3 linked regions of the Homo sapiens genome follow. The protein of the gene in region 3 purifies or fractionates together with the protein of the main gene of each other region. This does not show direct contact. Each region holds a gene or a part of one and is shown on either strand. Other genes may lie near its edges.

Region 1 (7,693 bases), on a different chromosome or scaffold from region 3:
GATGGGGCACTCTTAAGCTGGGTTTTGAAGGATAAGTAGGTGTTCTCTAGGAGAAAACTGAGAGCAAGAGAAGTATATCAAGGATTTTGCATCCTGGAGAAAGTGAGTGAACAATCTAATGCCTCCAGAAATTGTATATGTGACTTTGGGCTTCTGGTTCTTTAATTGCAAAATGGGAATAACCTATTTCTAAAGCAGTTGTTTCCATCCTGGGAGTGCATTACAATCATCCAGGAGCTTTAGAAATACCTATTTTCAGAACATTCCTCTAGAGATTTTGAGTTAGTTGATGCAGGATAAATCCTGGGTGAGGGTGCCTTTAAGAACTTCTCTCCAGGGGATTTAATGAGTACTCAAGGTTGAGAATCCCACTCCAAAGCAAGTGATTCCCACCTGATGATTCCCAGGTCTTTTAAAGCATTCAGCCACCAGGTATCAAGATGGCTGTAAAGCCACAGTATTAAGGTATTGGAACAGAGACAGACAAGCTGACCAATGGAACAGACTAGAGAATCCAACAGAGCCACACAGGAAGTCACCTGATATGTGACAAGGGCATCGCTACAGTTCAAAGGAAAGGATGATCCTTTCAATGAATGATGAAAACAACAACAACAACAACAAAACACCAGTGGATGTCCATACAGGAAAAATATAAATAGTGACTATTTTACTCAACATACAAAAATTAATTTGAGAAGTCACAGACCTAAATGTGAAAGGTATTAGATTGGACTATATGAAACTATTGGTCTTTAATATTTTTTAACCTCAAAACCCACAAGAATCAAAATGATAAAGCTTCTAGAAGAAAATATATTAATAGTAGACAATCTTTGTGACCATGAGATAGGCAGAAAGTATTAACCATTTTTACAAAATGATAAATGGAACTTCATTAACATTAAGAGCCTTGTTCCTCTAAAATTACCTAGGACAGTACAAAGGCAAGTCACAAGCTGGGAGTGGTACGTGTAATGTCTGTGTCTGATAAAAGGCTCATGCCTGTTTTTAAGCACTTCTACAAATCGACTGAAAAAAGACAACAACTTAAAAACTAAGCAAAGACATGAACAAATACTTCACAAAAGAAGATATCCAAATGGCCAATAAGCAGCTGAAAAGGTGCTCGACATCATTAATCATCAGAAACATGCAAAACAAAACTACAAGAAGAACTCACTACACACCCACTAGAATAGCTCAGATTAAAAGGACCAGCCACACGAGGACGTGGAGCAAGTGGAACTCTCTTATATTGCGGGTGGGTGTGCAAACCGACACCAACGTGTTGATTGGAAAATTGCTTGGCAGGATCTATAAAAGGTAAACATATGCTTACCCTTTGACCCATTCATTGTACCTCAGGGTATATGCCCAACAGGAAATGAGTGCTTGTGGGTTTACCAAGACATGTACTGCAATGTCCATAGCAGCTTTATGTGATAGACCTAAAGTGGAAACAACCCAGATGTCCATTTATAGTAGAGAAGGGAGAGAGAGAAAGAGATTCCTGGCCACCATCCCAGATCATACTTTGCATTTCCCTGGGTGTCCCCACTCTTCTTTGGTTTCCACAGGATCCCCAGTTGATGCTTGTGACAGACAGCTATGGGAGCCAGTGACCAAGAGTGTGAAACACTGCAAAGCCCAAATCCCACTAGAACAAATTATACTGTACCTCCAAGCAATAAGGCAAAGACTGAGTAAATGCAATGTATTTTCAGTCATTGAATTCAACTCCAATTGGGGAGCTTAATCAATAAATGATTTAAAATTAATAATAATTGATTTTGAAAGAAAATATTTTTAAGCAATCTCCGGTAAGATCCTAGGTTACCCTAAAAAGCTTCTAGTACAAAATGTTGAAAATCTTTCCACACAAAAATCTAAACAAGTAAGAAATAAAAGGAGAGAAATAGAAAATTTAGAAAATTTTTTTTTAATGGGAAGCATTCTGTAAATAGTAAAAAATTCAAGATGGCATTTCAGAACATTCGAGAAAAGGTGAACAATTCCATAAATGCTATTAGGAAACAAACAAATCATTTCAAAAATAAAATTACAAGTGTTGGAATAAAACCTTTTCATAATGTTAGAGTGAAAAAGAACTTCCTAAGTGTGATACACAAGCCAGAAACCATGTAGGAAAAGATGGCATATATGGATATACCATCTTTTTGCAACGTGTTAAAACTCTACAGAATATGTAAAATTTGGAATCACAAATTGGAACATGTGTACAAGATAGAGAGCTAATGTTCTTAACAATTAAGAGTTCTTATATATATCAATAAGTAACCACATGTGTTTCTCAATCAGCAAAAAGTAAAAAATTTGGGTAAATATGCATTGAAACATTGTGGGTGGGGGCCAGCTTTGATTTTCCTCATCTTATTTTCTTCTTTGTCTTTGTCTCTGCAGAACAGGGTACTTCCATGCACATATTAGTAGATACGGTTATTCATAGACATTATGTATTTTTCATACCAACTTTGCAAGTTTGGGTGCTGCTAGACCCATTTTTACACATGAGAAATCTGAGTTTCCTATAGCTGCACAGTTAGCAGATTCAGGACTCAAAAATCAGGTCTTCTGGTTCTGAATCCCTTTTTCCATGGATAGCTTTCTGGTAGACCATAAATGAAAGCATGGCCACAGCATCTTGGCAGCCAGCACAGACCCATGGAACTCTTGGCCAGACTGGTGATCCAGCCCTAGGGCTAGGCATGAGAAGGACGCAGAATGTCTGTCTATTTGAGTGATCACCTTGGCCCTTGGTTGTCTTCTCTAAGACAGAGAAACAGACAACACACACACACACACACACACACACACACACACACACACACACACTGCCCCTTGGACTAACCTCACCTCCCCAGTTTCTCCTTTCCCCTCAGGTCAGTCTTCCTTGGCCTTCCCCAGTTGTTGCTGATCCCAGCCTCCTAGTCCTTTTTCGGTCCTGGTCCTGCAGCCTTCAGGTTCCAGGTATGTTCCTCTAGGCTCCCAGCCCCACAAGCCTTATCTACAAACTGGGTGGACTTCTGCCCAACGACCTACTAAGCCTGCCTCTGCCACCTCCACCCCTTTCCCAGGATCAGCCTGGCCAACTGGCCCTGCCAAGTGTCTCACTCAGAGAGCAATGCGTCTGGGAGTTCCCTTCCTCACCCCTTGGGAAAGATCAGGCCTACTTTTTCTCTCCCATCCCAAATAGCAAGGGGCACTGTGCTAGGTACACCCAAGGTGCTCTGTAGATTCACTGATGAGGGCCTGGCTTGCTAGGACCTGAGTGTTTGGCACCCAGTAAACCTCATAAAAGTGAGTGCACCAGAAACCAGAGTGACACACGCCATCCCCTCCCAGCTCCACAGCCCTGATCCCTGTGATCATCTTTGAGCAGAATCGTCCACCCCAGATTCCTTCCCTGGGACAGGACAGGAATGGGTGTGGGCACCCTGGCACTGCTATAGAATACCAGCCGCCTGGCACAGATGTTCACATGGCCCTCTCTCACCTCCCAGGTGCAGCCTGGGAGCAGGCAGCCCATCCATCCAACCCCACCCCACTCCCGAGCTCTGGGACGTCTCAGGGCCTGGGCCTGTGGTCTGGGTACCAGACATAGGTGACTCATAATGCACCTGGTGGCTGGAGAAGCCATCCCTTCCTCTGGTTCTCAGTGTACTCACCTGTACAATGGGCAATAGGAGACTGCATTGGATCTGTGGTTGCCTGAGAGAGCCAAACTATTGGAAGTCATGCTGTCAATCAATTTCACTTAAAATAATATAGACCCAAGTCCGTGCTAAATGTCATTCAAGCCAGATCTAGATGCTGGTAGAAGAGCAGAACAACAGAGGATATAAAAAAAGAGCATTTGCTCAACATTACTAACCATCAGGGAAATGTAAATGAAAACCACAATGAGATACCACCTTACTCTTACAAGATGGCCATAATTAAAAAGTAAAAAATAAAAATAAAAAAAATAGATGTTGGCATGAATGTGGTGAAAGGGAACACTTTTACACTGCTGGTGGGAATGTAAATTACTACAACCCCTATGGAAAACAGTATGGAGATTCCTTAAGGAACTAAAAGGAGAGCTACCATTTCATCCAGCAATCCCACTACTGGGTATCTACCCAGAGGAAAAGAAATCATTATATGAAAAAGACACATGCACACACATGTTGCGTAATTTCAAAGATATGGAACCAACCTAAGTGCCCATCAAACAATAAATCCATAAAGAAAATGTGGTATATACACACCATGGAATACCACTCAGCCATAAAAAGGAATGAAATAATGTCCTTTACAGCAATTTGGATGGAGGTGGAGGCCATTATTCTAACTAAAGTAACTCGGGAATGGAAAACCAAATATTGCATGTTCTTGCCCATAAGTGGGAGCTAAGCTGTGAGCACAGGTATAAGAATGATATAATGGACTTTGGGGACTCAGGGAAGAAGGTTGGGAGGGGGTGGTGAGGTATAAAAAACTACATATTGGGTACAGTGTACACTGTTCAGGTGATGGGTGCACTAAAACTCAGAAATCACCGCTAAATAACTTAATCCAAGTAACCAAAAACCACCTGTACCCCAAAAACTCTTGAAATTTAAAAAGAGCATTTCAGAAAAATATTTATGGAAGGAAAATCGCAAACTGCAAAAAAGCCCATAATTTAATGTTTTTCTGCATTTTCAGGTAGCCCACCAATTTGATTTCAGCAGCATGTGTACTTCTGTGCACACCTCATGTACACACACACACACACACATATATATATACACACACACATTTAATTCTTACAAGTCTGTGAGGGACCATTGTCACACTATACAGATGAGAAAGCTGAGGTTTGGGATAGTGAGTCATCTGTCAAATGTCACACGGTTATTTAATGGATGTGCAGCTTCATAAGAATTTCTTAATATAAAAGCAGAAAAAAAATATGTGGATACAACTAGTGCAGAAACTTTGGGAGAAATCAAGGAAATTCTGGAACTGTCTGCATGCCTCACATAAGGCTGCGGCTGTTAAATGCTGGCTCCTGGGATGGCTCACTCTAGTATTTGTCGGGTTGGTTCGTGCAGCCCAGAACAGGAACCGACACCACCTTCAGTTTTCCATCTCTGAGCCATTCGACTTCTCCTTTGGAAGGTGTCCCACCCACCTCTCTCACCTGCCTTTCCCTCATCCTCCTTTCCTGCTTCCTTCCAAAGAGGCAGAACTTGAGTTGAAAAGCAGATTGAATGTCTATAATGTACCAGGCAGCAAGCCAGGTGTGGGGGAGAGAGAAATAACACAAGTCCTCATAAGCTCACAGACCAGGGAAGGGACAGACACTGGGGGGTCACGCCTGTACTCCTAGCACTTTGGGAGGCCAAGGCAGGTGGATTGCTTGAGGTCAGGAGTTTGAGACCAGCCTGGCCAATATGGTAAAACCCCATCTCTATTAAAAATACAAAAATTAGCTGGGAGTGGTGTCTCGCACCAGTGGTCCCAGCTACTCGGGAGGCTGAGGCATGAGAATTGCTTGAGCCCAGGAGGCAGAGGTTGCAGTGAGCTGAGATTGCACCACTGCACTTCAGCCTGGGTGACAGTGATACTCCATCTCAAAAACAAAACAAAACAAAACAAGAGTTCTGTGGAGGGGTGAGTTCAACACCACTTGCACCCACGAGAGGCAGATATTGAATCAAATCAAGGCCTCCAAACAAAAAAAGCCGCAGCTCCATCCCCCACCCACTCACGTGTCCCCTCTCAGGGGGCATTGTGACATTGAGGCGGAGCACAGGTCCTACAGCCACAGCAAGCTGGGCCACCTCACCCAGGTCACCTCACTTCTCTGTGCCTCAGTATTTCCATCTGCCCAATGGGACTACTGAAGTACCTGCTTTGTTCATTTCATCAGATTGTTAGCAGTGCTATCAAATGCAAAGGCCCATGTGGAGAGGATCAATTAAAACTAATTAGTAGTAATCATAGCAATAGTTATAATAGTTGTTAATAAAATAGTAATTAATTACTATTAATGGGCATTACTAATGATAAACATGATGACAGGGAGCTGATTCTGTTCATCCAAGTCACACTCTGCTCACCATTCTCATCCTCCAGCATCAAGAGTGAGGGTGTTGTGTGCCTAACACTGCTGGAGCCCAGGAGGACAATTCTTGCCTCTCAAATGAAACATGTGTTATCAAGAATGGATCAGACAGCAAAAATCAAATGTTAAGGATGGCTGAGATCCTTGAAATTCAGGAGGAATTTGGATGGGTAGTCAGTAGTTACCCAAATAGGGTTATCTGTTCACATCTAACTACTGACTATTTTGTGTGCTATTATATAGTTAAGGATGGGAAAAGCTCATTTCTGAGCTTTCAGAAATTTGGGAAAACAGAGTGGTTGTCTACTTAAGACCAAGGAAAGGGCCAAGTCACAGAGAAGACGTAGTGAAGAAATACGCAAGCCCACACATCTATTCTCCAAGAATGTTCCACACATTCCCCAGTGGGTTCTATTACCAGCTCAAGCCACTAGCATAAGAATGAGGAGTGATACCGAGGGTAGCTCTGGAAGCAGCCATCCCACGGCTCACCATGCAGGTGGAAGAAGGGAAGTTTCCCTTCAGTCATCCAGGTTTTCAGTTTTCCTTCCAGGATAAGCGAAAGCAGGCTGATAGAAACCAAGTGTGGGCTGGTAAGCAGGTCACCCTTATCTGCAAGGGCATACTCTGAGTTGCCACGGCTTGTTTGCTGATACCAGACAGTCCTCTTACAGAGAACTGCCTTTATAATCCAAGACAAAATGAAGGACAATTACTTTCAGAGAGAGAATACAAAGATGCAAATGGCTGATATCAGATATCTCTAAGCAGTACAAACCAAGAAACAGTAGAGACTCAAGAATCTGAAGCAGAGCGGGAGGACCTGAGAGCGGGAAAAGACTATAGAGAATTCTATGTAGAGACAGAAAATCTGGATTCAGGCTCCATGGCTGCTGTTTCCCAGCCGTGCAACCCTCCTCAAGTTACTTCATCTTTCAGGATCTTGATTTCCTCACCCATAAAACTGAGGAAATGTTTGAGAAATCCATTGGGAGGATAAATTAAAGTAGTGACTGTAAAAGGTGTGGTGTAAACCATAACCGCCCATGCACAGGCTGCTCTGTGACTTCGGAATTTTGCAGGGGTCCCCAAGGGCTGGACCAATGGCTTTCATTTTCCTCCACTCTGGGATGAATTTTTAAAAAATTACTGGGTGCTCAGCTTGAAATCTGCGGTGTTGGGATGAAAACCTAAACACCATACAACTGCTATTGTCTTCCAGTGGTGTTTCCAAATGCCAGAATAACCTGACCAGTGGGACTTCAGCCAATCAGCCCCTCTGCATCACTTCCCAAGACCAAAAATGCTTTCCCTCCTTGGATGAACAGCCTGGAGGTTGCTCCAGTGGCTCCCTGGGGACCTCACAGTCCGAGAAGGGGTATGGGTTTGAGAAGGGCAGCATGGTGCGGGCCTAGACTCCCAAGGCCACCCCACATCTCAGCACATCTATGTCTTAACCTACTCACCTGTGAAATTAGGGCAATCATACCTCCCCACTGTCGAGAGGCTGAGATAATTCGTGCAAAGCCCTGGGACAGTGCCTGGACTGTGCCGCTTAGGTACTCCATGGCGGCT
Region 2 (7,140 bases), on a different chromosome or scaffold from region 3:
ATGGCCGGCTCTGAGAGGCATTTACAGAACCTCAAGGAGCTGTCGGACTAGGCCAGCCCCGAGGTCAAGGAGACGTATGGGGAGAAGTTTCTGATATCCCGTGAGTGAGCTGTGGACAGTGGGGAGATAAAGAAATCCTTGTCTAGAAGTCTGGGTCCATCATTAGTGCCTCCAACAGTATGAGAATCTGTCCTCCAAACTCTGCCTCCCCAAAAAAGTGAGGACATTTATCCCCATTCCCAGGGTGCCATGTGGTCAACTGTTCACCTAAAGGAAGCATCCAAGCTTTCTATAATTGGGACCACTGCCTCATCTGAATCCCTCATTATTTTGAAGAGGAAACTAAAGTCAGAGACAGTGGCTACCAGTGGGCTCATGGGCAGCTGGGTTTAGAGATAGCTGATTTTCATATTCTTAGGCTGTTAGTAGAGACCTTCCATTTATGAGTCCAGATATCTCAAAAAGAGAGGCAGAGGGGGCTTAGAGTGAAACGGATGTTCCTTGGGTGAAGGTTGGGGCACTCTCTGGGGAATATGGATGGATTAGACTTGAGGCATATCATTTGGGGGGCCTGGAATTCTTAGACACTGTCCTCCTAATTCAGAGCTCTAAATGGGAGGGAAGGGATGTGCTAGTACTTTAAGGATCTTTCCTCATCCTTAACATGCATCAGAAAAGCATCTAGAAGGCTTTGGGCAAAATGCAGTACGAATCTATCCTTGTTGACCCACTGCATGGAGCGCTCACTACTCAGCTGGCTGAGACACCAATCTTCTCTACCTCCCCATGAGCGACATGCCTACCTTCCTATGGACGTCACGCTCAACTGGGGCTCTCCAAGGCTGGCTAAGCCCCTGTGAATCCAAGACTGGGGTGCATGGTTGGGTGGAGCTGGGTGATCTGGGTGAGGTGATGTGTCTTGGGGAGAGTAATGGTGTGGTGGGAGGGAGCACTCTTGCCATTTGGATGCCTATCCCAGCTTCTTCCTCATGCCCTCCACAGAATTCCACTGAGATATCACTCAGGACTGGCAACATAGGAGGAAAGAACCAAGGTGTTCTTCTAAAGATTGGGACCCAGTAACGCTCATAGGTGTCCTGTTGCCTTTGAGTCTCTTGGCCAATTCTGAGGAGTCTACACAATGGGAGCGTGTGAGGAGGGGAAGGATCCACAGCCCACACCTTCTCTGCCTCCTGCTTCTTCCCCAGGTGTGCATCAACCTGGCCAGTCTATTACACTCTCTCCATGATGGAAATGGCCTGGAGGAAGTGGATGGGGGCTCCTCTGAATATACCTGTGGATAAGGTGTGGGGCGACAGGGCAGCCATCAGCCTGACCCCTAGACCTCAGGTGCCAGCTCTGGGGGCATTGGCTGGCAGTGGTGTTCTCGATAGGGATTCTGACAGAGGACACAGGAACCAATGTTTGACCCTCTTAAAACCATTGGCTGGCAGTGGTGTTCTCAATAGGGATTCGGACAGAGGACACAGGAACCAATGTTTGACCCTCTTGAAACCATGACCCTCAAAAAACCATCTGGTTACTTTAGTTCTAGAGCAAAAGCTAAAAAGTGCAGCCATGTGCAGCAAGTTGCCTTCTAGTCTGAGGGGAGCATGGGCTGTGAACAAGAGGGAGGAGGAGGCAGGTGCCTTCATGGGGATCTGGGGATAAGAGGGATGAACTCAGGAGGAAATTGAAGAGAGAAGTTGGATTATCCCTGCCCTGTCTCAGCCCTTTCTGCCACCAAGGTGAGGGGCAATTGTTTCCTTTCCAGGAGTGAATCAAGTAGCCTGGGGTCACAGGAGTGCACAGAGGGACAAGGAAGCAATGACATGTCACAAAGGCACTGGCAGGCCTCTTTGTAGCACTTTGTAGCGACCTCTTTGTAGCACTCAGTGACCGGCCCTCACTTTAACATCATTGCACTTGGGAGGGGTGCTGTTTCATGGGGTGAGAAATAGAGTGGTGGGAGGGAGCTCTCAAGTTCAGGGTCATGTACCTCACTTCCCTCACCTCTGTTCTAGTTTTTTTCTGGGACGTTATTCAGGACTCTGGTGATATTAGGAGGAAAGAACCACATTTTGCTGCTTAGGAAGGGAGACCCAATCACAGATAATGGCATCCCACTTCCTTGGGCTCTGAGCTTCATGGCCCACCTGTCAACCTGAAGAATCCACACTTGTGGAAGGTCTTGAGCAACTGGGGGTGGGTGAGCCCACACCTGCTCTTCCTCCTGTCTACCTCATCAGGGTGTGTCTTGGACCTCAGCAGTCTATGCTCTCCCACTGGAGGGAAATGGCCTGGCAGAGGAGAGGGCTCCTCTCCTCTGAGATACCTGTGTGCATGGGGTGGGGATGGGGAGTGCAGCTACCAACCTGACCTATCAGACCTTAGGGGCCAGCTTGGCAAGGAATGCTGTCATCTGAGAGAGGGAGGCATTTCTAGCCCTGGGAAGAAGAGCCTTCTATGTGGTCCTACCTCCCTCACACCCCCCACCCTCATGGACTGTGTGTTTAGTTTGAGGCCAGGGGAACACTGCCAGCATAGAGGCCCAGGAGGTGCTGAGTCAGGCCCAGGCCTGTGCTGGGGCAGTTCTGAGTTATCCTTATGCTAAGTCAGACCCAACTCCTGGACCTCACCTGTGTCCTCAAGGACTGGGATACCCAATGCCCCGGACCTGCTCAGTCTTGAGTGACATGGTCTGACCTGTTTCAGCCAAGACTTCTCTGTTCATTCACCCAGGAGGCAGACAGAGACTGGGAGATTGTTCCCAGATCCCGCATAGGAGGTGCTCTGCCTCAGGTTGGTTATGAAGTAGGTGTGGTTTGCTTTCTACCATTTCCCACCTCCATCCCCTATAAGCTTTAGGTCTGCTCTTTGGGGGTGGGTTCATAATCTGGCCCCCTCCCCTACTTTGTTAAGGAACGGCCAAACCCTGCGGGGCTTTCCCAGGGTGACACCTGCTTTATGTGATTCCACGCTGGTCAGACTTGGCAAATGGTGGATCACAGAGATACATCCTTTGTCCCTTCACACTAGAGAACTTTGTGGTCCCATTTCTGTGTCAGACTCGCTAAGCCATGAAGGTGTGAGCTAGGACCAGGCTCATCCCAAGGAATGGTGACCCTAGATGTTGATCCAAAGAACCACAGAGGCTCCAGCATCATTCCCTGCATCTTATGCAATTCTGGGTGTGGCCCCTCACTACTCACACCTCTGGTTTCCTTATTTCCTTTCCTTTACCACCTTACCTCTTAGCTTTCTGTAAATTATTTGCTAAATTGCCTAGAATCTCTGTTTCTCCTCCAAGTCCCGACCCTGAGAATTTTCTATGTCTCTGGCCCCAGTTCTCTGCTCCTCCTATATCTCATCCCCTCTTACAGTCAAGGCCTCTGCCCAGACAATTCCCTCAGCTGCCCAGTGAACTCATGATCCCTCCTCATCATCTTGCCCAGGGCTGCTTACTGGTGACCTGAGTATGACCCCCACAGGGTGTCAGGCCTGAGTCCCCCAGGTCTTTCTGCTTTCTGGTGGCTAAGCTTCACATGCCAGCCTCCCCTATAGGAGGGCCCTGCTGCCTCTAGCCTCAGGACAATGGAGGTACATCCACCCTAGGAGAAATCCATTGCTTTTCATCCTCTCTCATGATGGAGACTTACCTAAGAATTCCAGAGAGCTGATGACCTGCGACTTGTTTCTCTTGGGGTTTGGAAGGTACAGAACCAATGTTGTTTGTTTTACATTAATAAATTTGTCTTGAGTATTTTCCCTGAAAATAAACTTATTTACATACCTGCACTCACGACAAATGATTTTGATCCCTGGAGACCAAAATCCCCAGGCTGGGTTGGGGGCAGGGTGGGGACAGGATTTCTAGGGGAGCTGTCTGGGGTGAGTCCTCATCTTTCATTTGCCTGCCTTACACCGCCTGGGTGAGCCACCACTCATCACCAACATTACAAGTGGATTATTTCCAATTCTTGGCAGCTTTACCCATCAGGGCAGGGGGAGAGAGGGAGGCAGCTACCAGGGCTGTCAGAGGTGACAAGGCTTCAGGTTGGACTTGAATTTCTTGCATCTGGGCTAATTGCTGTGGTGATGCATCCACCTATAAAAATTACAGCGTGGCTCACCCAGGGACCTAGATTTGTTGCAAGCTGTGGGAGGAAGGAGAGTTCTTCTTCCAGGTGGTTTCCTGCAGACTGCCTGCTAGGGCTCAGAGGACCAGCTTCTTCCCTGCTGTCTCCTGAGCCCAGTCCCTCTTGGCCATCACATTCCCCTTGCCCTATGGCGGCCCTCACAGACCTCTCATTTATGTATCGCTGGTTCAAGAACTGCAATCTGGTTGGCAACCTCTCAGAGAAGTACGTCTTCATCACAGGCTGTGACTCTGGCTTCGGGAACCTGCTGGCCAAACAGCTGGTTGATCGGGGCATGCAGGTGCTGGCTGCTTGCTTCACTGAGGAGGGATCCCAGAAACTTCAGCGGGATACCTCCTATCGGCTGCAGACCACCCTACTGGATGTCACCAAGAGCGAAAGCATCAAGGCGGCGGCCCAGTGGGTGAGGGACAAAGTGGGCGAACAAGGTGGGGCGAATTACATTCTTTGGCTTTCTTGGTTTCTCCTTCTTCCTCTTCCTCTCTCCCGAAGCATCTGACAGTATCAGAGACCCTGATGTCCAGATTGGGTGGGAGGGGTGATGTAGGGAAAGGCCCCTGCCTCAATCTGATTGGAAGCCACTGCATGGTTTGGCCTGTTCACATGAAGGGGTGATTTCCCAAGGAAGTTTTCTGTCCTGGAAACTCAGAGAAACGGGAAAGAGGTCTCAATAGGAAGCGAGGGGGGAAGATGTGTTCTGTGTGTCCAAACCTCTAAAAATGGACGTGCCTGGCTGGGCGTGGTGGCTCACGCCTATGAGCCCAGCACTTTGGAAGGCCGAAGTGGGAGGATCATGAGGTCAAGAGATCGAGACCATCCCGGCCAACATGGTGAAACCCCATCTCTACTAAAAAGTATAAAAATTACCTGGGTGTGGTGGCACGTGCCTGTAGTCCCAGCTACTCAGGAGGCTGAGGCAGGAGAATCACTTGAACCCGGGAGGCGGAGGTTGCAGTGAGCCAAGATTGCGCCACTGCACTCCAGCCTCGTGACAGAGCAAGAATCCCTCTCAAAAAGAAAAAAAAGAAAAAAAAAGGATGTGCCTCTCTGATGTTTCAGCAGTCCTAACCATCAGCTCCTGGGGAAATACAAACACATTTCTTGTTGGGATCAGGATGGGGGAGGGGGAATGAGACAGGAGGCTGGATCCCATGAGTGGGTGCAGTTTGTCTCCTTGACTATGTCAGGCAGGGGAGAAAGAGATCTGGTCTCTTCTTGACATCATGGTGGGTGTTGATTTGACTTCAGGGCAAGTATGTATGTCACAGTGGCTGCTCCTATTGGGAAAGGAAGCTGTGGACTGGGGCTGGCCCAGGACTGTGTGGGGACCTGCCTCATGCACTTCCAGCACACAGGGTGTGGGCCCAGGAACAGGAGGAACAGGATGGCTGAGTTGCAGAAGCAGCAGACTAGAGGAAGTCCTCCCTCCTAAAGGAACTAGTCTGGAGCCCATGCGCAGGTCAGGGCAACAGAGCCCTGGAGCCAGGGGGATCTAGACAGTAACTCCCTGCTTGATTCTTCTCCTTAGCACTTATCACTAGTCAATGTACAATAGATTTTACTTATTTATTGTCTGTTTCCTCTGCTAGAATAAAGCTTCCTGGGGACAAGGATTTTTGTCCCTTTTATTTACTGTACATCCTTAGTACCTAGAATAATGTCTGGCACCTAGTAAGGTACTGAATAAATAGATTTGAGTGAGCTAATTAATTAATAATTCAGCAAGAGTGAGCCTCTGTCTTCAGCAGGCTGTCTCAGCCAGTTCCCTACATTCAGCCTTGAGCCACTTGCCTTAATACCTCACTTAGCATGTGAGTTTCCTGTTGCTATTGTAACAAATAACACAACTGTGGGGTCTGAAGACAATACAAACATATTATCTTGTAGTTGTGGAGGAGTAATGTCTAAAATAGGCCTCACTGATCTAAAATCAAAGTCAGCAGAGCTGTGTTCCTTCTAGAGGCTGTAGAGGAGAATCCGTCTCATCGACTTTTCCAGCTTCCAGAGGCAGCTGGCATCCCCTGGCTCCTGGCCTGCTACCTCCATCTTCAAGGCCCGCAAGGTTGGGCCCAGTCTTTTTCACACTTTTCTCAAGCTCTCTGATTCTCCGGTTTCTGCCTCTTTCCACTTAGGACTTGTGATTATATTGGGCTCACCAGGTTAATCCAGGATAATTTCCCGTGTTAGCTTCCTCCCTAACTTTAAGGACAATTAATTAGCAACCTCCATTCCACCTGCAACCTTAATTCCCCTTTCCCATGTAATCCAGCAGATTCACAGGTTCCAGAGATAATGAGGATGGGGACATCTTTGGGGGACCATTATTTTGCCTAAGCCACTTGGCAATATCCTGGTCTAAGAAACACTGGGAACTGGGGTGGGTAGGGGGATGGGAGAGGAAGTTCTTTCATGCTTTCTCATTGCTCCTGAATGGAGAAAGGCAGGGAGACTGGGTAGGGGCATGGCTTGGGTGGGGACCCCAGCCCTAGAGGGAGGGGTGGACTAGGATTTATGTTTGTGTTGAGACCTGCCCTCAGGAGACAGTGGGATGCGCCTGCAGAGTATCTTGGGGCTGCTGAGGCTGGGGCTGTGGTGCGAATCACCAGGCAGTAGGACTTGGGGAATCCTTGCATGAAGGAGCTGGAAGGGGTCCTTGAGGAGTGTTTAGAGGGGTTTACAGTAGAACCCCAATATGTAAAACAAATGAAAGGAGAGCTTCTCCTGCATTTTCCTCCCCCTAGAAGGCTTGCAAAATACAGCCTGGAAACAACTGTTTTAGTCTAATCTGATGAAGAGCCTGAGGCCCAGAGAGGGAAGTGACTTGTTCAAGGCTGGAGGTAAAACCAGGACTGGACCTGAAGCTCTTCAACCCTGGGCCCCTGCAGAGTTGAATGACAACACTTAGCATTATTTCTTTCCATTTGTACCAACCTAATTGAAATATCTCAAGGATAGTCCTCATCACATTTTCCATAATTAT
Region 3 (7,101 bases):
TGTAATCCCAGCACTTTGGGAGGACAAGGCAGATGGATCACTTGAGGCCAGCAGTTCGGGACCAGCCTGGCCAACAGTAAAACGCCGTCTCTACTAAAAATACAAAAAATTAGCCAGTCATCATGGCGGGTGCCTGTAATCCTAGCTACTCAGGAGGCTGAGGCAGGAGAATCACTTGAACCTCGGAGGCGGAGGTTGCAGTGAGCCGAGAGCCTACCATTGCACTCCAGCTTGGGTAACAGGAGCAAAACTCTGTGTCAAAAAAATAAAAATAAAAATAATGAATGAATGAATGAATGAATGAAGTGAACTCCCCACCAGGTGATTCTCTTGCTAGATGAGAAATGCCTTGGTTTAACTCTTGGCTTCCCTAACAACTACCTGTGACTGTGGCCTCGAATAATTATTTCCCAGCTTTGGTCTGCAGCATCTTTGATGACAAGGTAAATTGAGATTAGAGATGCATTGCATGAAAAGTAGGGATTCTGGACCTTGGCACTATTAACATTTGGGGCGGGACAGTCTTTTGTGGTTCAAGGTAGTCGTATACTCTGTAAGATGTTTAGCAGCATTCCTGGCCTCCACCCACTAGATGGCAGTAGCACATCCTCCCTCATTTGTGACAAAACTGTCTCCAGTCATTGCCTAATGTCCTGTGGGGAGCAATCACACCTCTGTAAGAACTACCGGTATGAGGCGCCCAGCACAGTGCCTGCCACCTATTAGGTTTTCTTCTGAGGACCAGTGAGGAGAAGGGGCTGCTTTTCATGGAAGTCTGAGGCCATCATGAACCTTCTGCTCATAAGCCCACTTATGCAGATTTAAAGCCTGTGTGCCTGTGAGTTTACAGGTCAAAGATCTGCGGATGGAAAGTAAATTCCCCAAAAGATTCTGACCCACTGTTTTTGCACCATTTTCAATATTGCCAGTCTCCAAGTCTAGCTATCACCCCTCTTTGGTTTGGAGAGTATACAGGCCCTTTCTCTCTCTTTCTACTTCACTGCCTGCTTTATTTCCTGCCCAAACTACTTATGCAATAATGGCTTCTTAACTGGTGATCCCATATCTAATGACATTCTGCCACAGCTATTAGAAAACATTTTCCACAAAGGACCAGATGATAGATCATTCAGTCTTGGTGGGCTGGGCAGTCTCTGTCACAGCTATCCAACTCTGCCTTTGTAGTACAAAAGCGGCTACAGACAGTAAACAAATGAGCATGGGTGTGTTCCAATAAAACTTTATTTACAAAAACAAAATTTGGGCCAGGTTTGCCTCATGAGTCGTTTGCTAGGTCCTCTCTTCATCCCCCTACCCTATCTCCTGCTGCCAGACTAGGCTTTACAGAGCCCAGAGGTCATTTTTCCAGCACATATTCACTTGGCAAACATTTATAAATGTCCACTTTGCAGCTAGTATGCTGTTGGACCATGGAGATGGGACAGGGAATGTGGCACAGTGTCCTGTTTTCAGGGAGCTCACAGACAAATAATCAGGCTGTGGCAGTGCTTGGTGCTGTGTGAGCTGTGGCCACCAGCTGCAGTGGAGCAGAGGGGATGGGCAACTGACCAGGTTTCAGCATCAAGGAAAGCCTGCTGGAGGAGGGACTCTTGATGCGGACTGAAGGAAGAGTAAGGACTAGTTGGGCAAGGGGGTAGGTGAGGCTTTCCAAGCTGAGGGGCAGTAAATGTGAAGACTTGATGGGGTTGAGAGGATGGAGCTCTTCTCCCTTAACTGACCATAAGCTTCTGGAAGGCATGACCCTTCTCTCTTCAATACAGAGATAGCTCGAAGTCTACAAGGAGCCTTAGCTCTTTTGCAAGAACTAGTAGGAATGGGCCACTTTTCCTGAGCTTGCTCTGCACTGATGAAAAGCCCCAGGGTTATATATGTTCCTGGTGAAAGTATCTTCTGCTGGAGGTGGAGGAGGGAAACCTTTGTCTTCATATGATCATTGTCTGTACCACTGCTTATGTGGTTATTCTGTGCTTCCCTGTAAGAGTTTACACAAGTCTACCTTTCACTTCAGAGATGGGCCAGGTAGAAGGTTGGGGAGGCAGAAACAGATCTTTGAGCAGAAGCTGCCTCTGGCACAGTGAATTTCTCATCAGATGATTCCCAAGATCCCAACATTTCTGGGGCTTTTCATCACCCATAGAGAAGTGGCATCGCTATGAAATTTCTGTACAGAAGGATATGTTCCTTGAACAGCCCAGAAAAAGAAAAGATGCTAGTTTAGTTATAAAACAGCAGAAGTTTTTTTTTTTTTTTAATTAGTCAAGACCCTTTTGGTTGTAAGTAACAGAAAAAGTAGCTTAAAAAATGAGACAAAGGGTACAAAGTGTCAGTTTTGCAAGACAGATACATTCTGGAGATTTAAGTACAGCATGGAAACAAGAGTTAAAAATACTGTATTATATACTGGAAGTGTGCTAAGAGGATAGATCTTAAATTAAATCTCTCCACACACACATACACACACACACACACACACACACAAATGGAGATCATGTAGAAGTGATGGATATGCTAATTACCTGGAATGTGGTCACTTCACAATGTATACATATGTCAAAACATCAAGTTATACACCTTACATGTATAATTTTTATGTTAATGGTATCTTAGTAAAGCTGTTAAAATATGGGACATTTACTGACTTGTGTAACTACAACAAACAGGGATGGTGCTGACTGCGGGTAAAGCTGGATTCAACACTTCAAATGACGTCACTGGGACTCAGTAGAAACCTCTCTGTTCCTCAGTTTCTTCTCTTCATTTTCCTCTAGGTTGGCCTCACGTGTAGGGAGGTCCCCTTCAAGTGGCAGTTCGTTGTTGTTGTTGTTGTTGTTGTTGTTGAGACGGAATCTTGCTCTGTGGCCCAGGCTGGAGTGCAGTGGTGCACTCTCAGCTCACTGCAACTTCCACCTCCCACATTCAAGTGGTTCTCCTGCCTCAGTCTCCGGAGTAGCTAAGATTACAGGCATGTGCCACCATGCCCGGCTAATTTTTGTATTTTTAGTAGAGGCAGGGTTTCACCATGTTGCCCAGTCTGGTCTCGAACTCCTGACCTCAAGTGATCCACCCACCTTGGCCTCCCAAAGTGCTGGAATTACAGGCATGAGGCAACATGCCCACCCTAAGTGTCAGTTCTTGGCAGCTCCAGGCTTATGATGTTTTTACAGCTGCCCATCACCGTGGAAAGAGAACTTCTTCCCCAAAACTACAGCAAAATCCCAGGGTGACTGGGACTCAGTGGTGTGACTAGGGCTTAACGCACTAACGGACTCACTAGATAGATGTGCATGAACGCAAATCCATGGGACTATCTCAGTGGGACCATCTGATTGGCCAGGCTGATGTCCTATGGCTCATCTCGTAGCGACTGGGAGCTGGGTTCAACTGTATCTGCACCATACAGGCTGAAAGTGGGACTGTCCCCCAAAAGGAAACTGGGGCTTTGTTGAAGAAACAGGAGTGGAGACAGACCAGCAGTATCACTGCATGTCTTCTTTGGCTTCCCAAGGATGGACAAGGTTAACTGCTCATGGATAGCAACTCAGCCTCAACATAGGCACACCCTCCATGGCCCCAGTGCTATGGGAAAATGTTAGAAAGAGAAAGAAATGCTCGTGCCCTTTTGTTTCCAGTGGCACAGACATTTGGCGAAATTTGTCTGGAGGAGGGAAGAGCCTGATGGGAATGATTTACTTGTAAAATGTTTAAACTTATCCTAAGCTTAGTTCTCTTCCAAGTGTCATCTTTAACATTCTAATTAAGGTCCCTTCTAAACAAATGCACCAGCTCCGTGTGCTGCTCTGAGAACAAACTTTTTTTTTTTCCTCTCTTCTTTCTGTCATCATGTTTTTGCTGCACTCAAATTGCTTTAGAGAAAGAGGATTTCGGATGTTGGTGGCAAGTACTGAAGAGATAAGGAGAAATTCTGATATTTTTGCCCTAGTATCATTATATGAGGGCCAAAGTCACATCTAATTGACCACAGACAATAGGAGAGGCAGCTATTTGGTGTGCCTAATTGCTAAGTTTTTTTCCTCGCTCTGTCTTTCTGACTGTGTGATCCCATCTCCTGAGACCATGGAAAGTTTAGACCTTTGGGTTACAATTTCTTATGCCGTGTGTGTGTGTGTGTGTGTGTGTGTGTGTGTGTGTGTGTGTGTGTGTGTTGTGGTAGAACTGTGGAGGAGGAGGTAAAGAGAGAGAGCTGTTTCCTGAAATGGAAGCATTTGTATTCAGGTTTTTGTTGTGTGTGTTTTTAAAATTCTTCTGAGTTGGCTGTAATTGTCACACTGCCTGTTTTGCCTAGATCTGAAGAATGAATTGTTATATAATACTCTGTGCTCATAAAAAAATAAGGCAGGGAGGGAGAGGCATTGACTAATGAGACTGAGAGTTAAATCCAATATTTTTCAGAAATGCTTAAAATGGGGATGTCAGAGAGGACAGTCTTTGTCCAAATTAGGCCCTGAATTTGTATCAGCTGCTTCATTTTGGCACTGGGGACATCATACACGCATACACACACACAGACACACACACACACACACACACAACATAACACACAACCACACAGACACTGGGACCATTAAAAGGATACTCCCTATTCCCATTATGTGAGCCAAGTCACATAAAACTTTGATTAAATTCAAATGCTTACATAAATTGTCTCTCCTCTCAAGAACACACACGTTCAATTTAGTCTCTCTTGGCACTTTAAGTATCAAATCAAGGTTCTGCTGTCACTGCAGACAACTAAATGCTCACAGCTTCCAAAATGGGAATGAAATAAAAAGGATCTGCCAAAAAAAAAAAAAAATCAATCTAGTAAAGCCACAGACCCTCATGTCTTTGAATATTAGGCTGGGTGGCTTGGAAAAAGCGACTTTATCTTTATCTTTCCAAGCCTCGGTTTCTGCATCTGTAAAATGGGGAGAAGTGATGGTTACTGTTTCCTTATAGGGTCTGGTGAAGATGACCTGAGATTGGTCCATCTCAGGCTGGTGGCACCATGGTGACCCCTAGAAAGTACGCGGGGCACGATCGTCCTGGGATCTGGGAGGAAGGTTTCTGCATGGTGGCTCCTCATGACGTTCTCTCCCTCTCTGCACCTTTTTGATTTTTCAGGGTAATCAGGAAGCAGCCGCTGCCCCTGACACAATGGCTCAGCCTTACGCTTCGGCCCAGTTTGCTCCCCCGCAGAACGGTATCCCCGCGGAATACACGGCCCCTCATCCCCACCCCGCGCCAGAGTACACAGGCCAGACCACGGTTCCCGAGCACACATTAAACCTGTACCCTCCCGCCCAGACGCACTCCGAGCAGAGCCCGGCGGACACGAGCGCTCAGACCGTCTCTGGCACCGCCACAGTAAGTGGACGTGTTTGCTACGGGTGGGAGGTTATGGGGAGGCGCCCCCAGCCCTGGTAATGGCAGCGGGGGTGCACCCCCATCTACCCAGGGACTCTGGGAAACAGATCAGTCCCTAAGCCCACCCTCATCATACCAGCTTCCTGAAGTTTACCTCATTTCCATGCATTCATTCTTAGCGTTCATTTAAATCAACGGATTATTAATTAATTTCATTTATTTGTAAAGGGGCACATTTATCAATTTTCTATTCCTATAGTTTTGCCTTTCTAGAATGTCATCCCAATGAAATCTCATTTTTTTGGAAAAAAAAAATTTGATGTAAGATAATTTTTCTTCAAGTCTTACGGAGGCTGGGTGTGGTGGCTCATGCCTGTGATCCCAGCACTTTGGGAGGCCGAGATGGGAGAGTCGTTTGAAGACAGGAGTTCGAGAATAGCCTGGGCAACAAAGTGAGACCTCATCTCTACAAGAAATTTAAAATTTAGCTGAGTGTCATGGTGCATGCCTGTAGTCCCAGCTACTTGGGAGACTGAGGTGGGAGGATGGCTTGGGGCCAGGAGTTTGAGGCTGCAGTGAGCTAAGATTGCTCCACTGAACTCCAGCCTAGGTCACAGAGTGAAACTCTGTCTCTAAATAAACAAAAATAAAGTCTTTGTGGAATTATAATTTACATACCTTAAAATTAGTATATTTTTAGGTGTACAGTTCACTGATTTTTAGCATATTTACGGAGTTGTGCGATGATTGCCGGATGCATCTAATTTCGGAACATTTCCATCAGCCTAAATACAAATCTTGTGCCCCTTTGCAGCCACTCCTCATTCATACCTCAGAGCTCTGAACCTCGCTTCTTTACCTTAGCCTAATACATTTGAGATTCATCCAGGTTGCGGTGTTTGTCCCTGGTTTCTTCATTTTTATTGCTGGACCAAAGGGCAGGGGCTAGAAAGAGGCAGGGTGAGAGAATTTTGATGAATAAGGGAACTGTCCTGTATCTTAATGGTGACGGTTACATGACTTTATACGCCATAAAGAGTAAATTTTATTGCGTACAAATGATGAAATGGATTAGAAACAGGCATGTAAACAGAAACATTTTATCATCACTGTAAATGAAAACTGGTGTTTTGATCATTAATCAAATATAACTCTAAATGAAAATATTTATCATAAAATTAAATAATGTTCATTTGTGTGCCACCTAAAGTAATCATGCATACCACAAAACCTGTATGGAACATGCATTTGGGAACCTTTTTCTGCAGAATTCTTTAGAAGCTTGGGAACCCCAATCCTGTCGTCTGGAACATTTTTTGAGTGTAAGGCAATTCTGCCTCTTCGTCCTGTCCCAAGACCTCAGGAAAGCAAGTATTTGTGAAGGAGTTTATGGCTTTGAAGCATGATACATTTCCTGTGATAAAAGAAAACACTGACTAACTTTGCTACTTGCCACCTCATTCATTTGGAGGCTAGTTTTGACGTTTTGTTTTTGTTTTTGTTTTTGTTTTTTTGAGATGGGGTCTCACTCTGTTGCCCAGGCTGGAGTGCGGTGGCGCGATCTCGGCTCACTGCAAGCTCCACCTCCCAGGTTCACGCCATTCTCCTGCCTCAGTCTCCCGAGTAGCTGGGACTACAGGCACCCGCCACCATGTCCGGCTAATTTTTTGTATTTTTGGTAGAGACGGGATTTCACTGTGTTATCCAGGATGATCT

Evidence for each region. The genes of interacting proteins can lie anywhere in the genome.
Region 1: the proteins of RBFOX1 (region 3) and SERPINA12 purify together in Homo sapiens (affinity purification with mass spectrometry; 2 studies listed by BioGRID and IntAct, with this or other methods). This does not show direct contact.
Region 2: the proteins of RBFOX1 (region 3) and SDR9C7 purify together in Homo sapiens (affinity purification with mass spectrometry; 2 studies listed by BioGRID and IntAct, with this or other methods). This does not show direct contact.

The regions. Positions count from the first base shown.
Region 1 is NC_000014.9:94,506,470-94,514,162, forward strand, and holds the start of SERPINA12 (serpin A12 precursor), read right to left. Parts: upstream 3,001-7,693; 5' UTR 2,873-3,000; intron 1-2,872. UniProt on the Homo sapiens protein: Adipokine that modulates insulin action by specifically inhibiting its target protease KLK7 in white adipose tissues.
Region 2 is NC_000012.12:56,931,409-56,938,548, reverse strand, and holds the start of SDR9C7 (short-chain dehydrogenase/reductase family 9C member 7), read left to right. Parts: upstream 1-4,140; 5' UTR 4,141-4,287; coding exon 4,288-4,588; intron 4,589-7,140. UniProt on the Homo sapiens protein: Plays a crucial role in the formation of the epidermal permeability barrier.
Region 3 is NC_000016.10:7,513,005-7,520,105, forward strand, and holds part of RBFOX1 (RNA binding protein fox-1 homolog 1), read left to right. Parts: intron 1-5,142; coding exon 5,143-5,385; intron 5,386-7,101. UniProt on the Homo sapiens protein: RNA-binding protein that regulates alternative splicing events by binding to 5'-UGCAUGU-3' elements. Regulates alternative splicing of tissue-specific exons and of differentially spliced exons during erythropoiesis.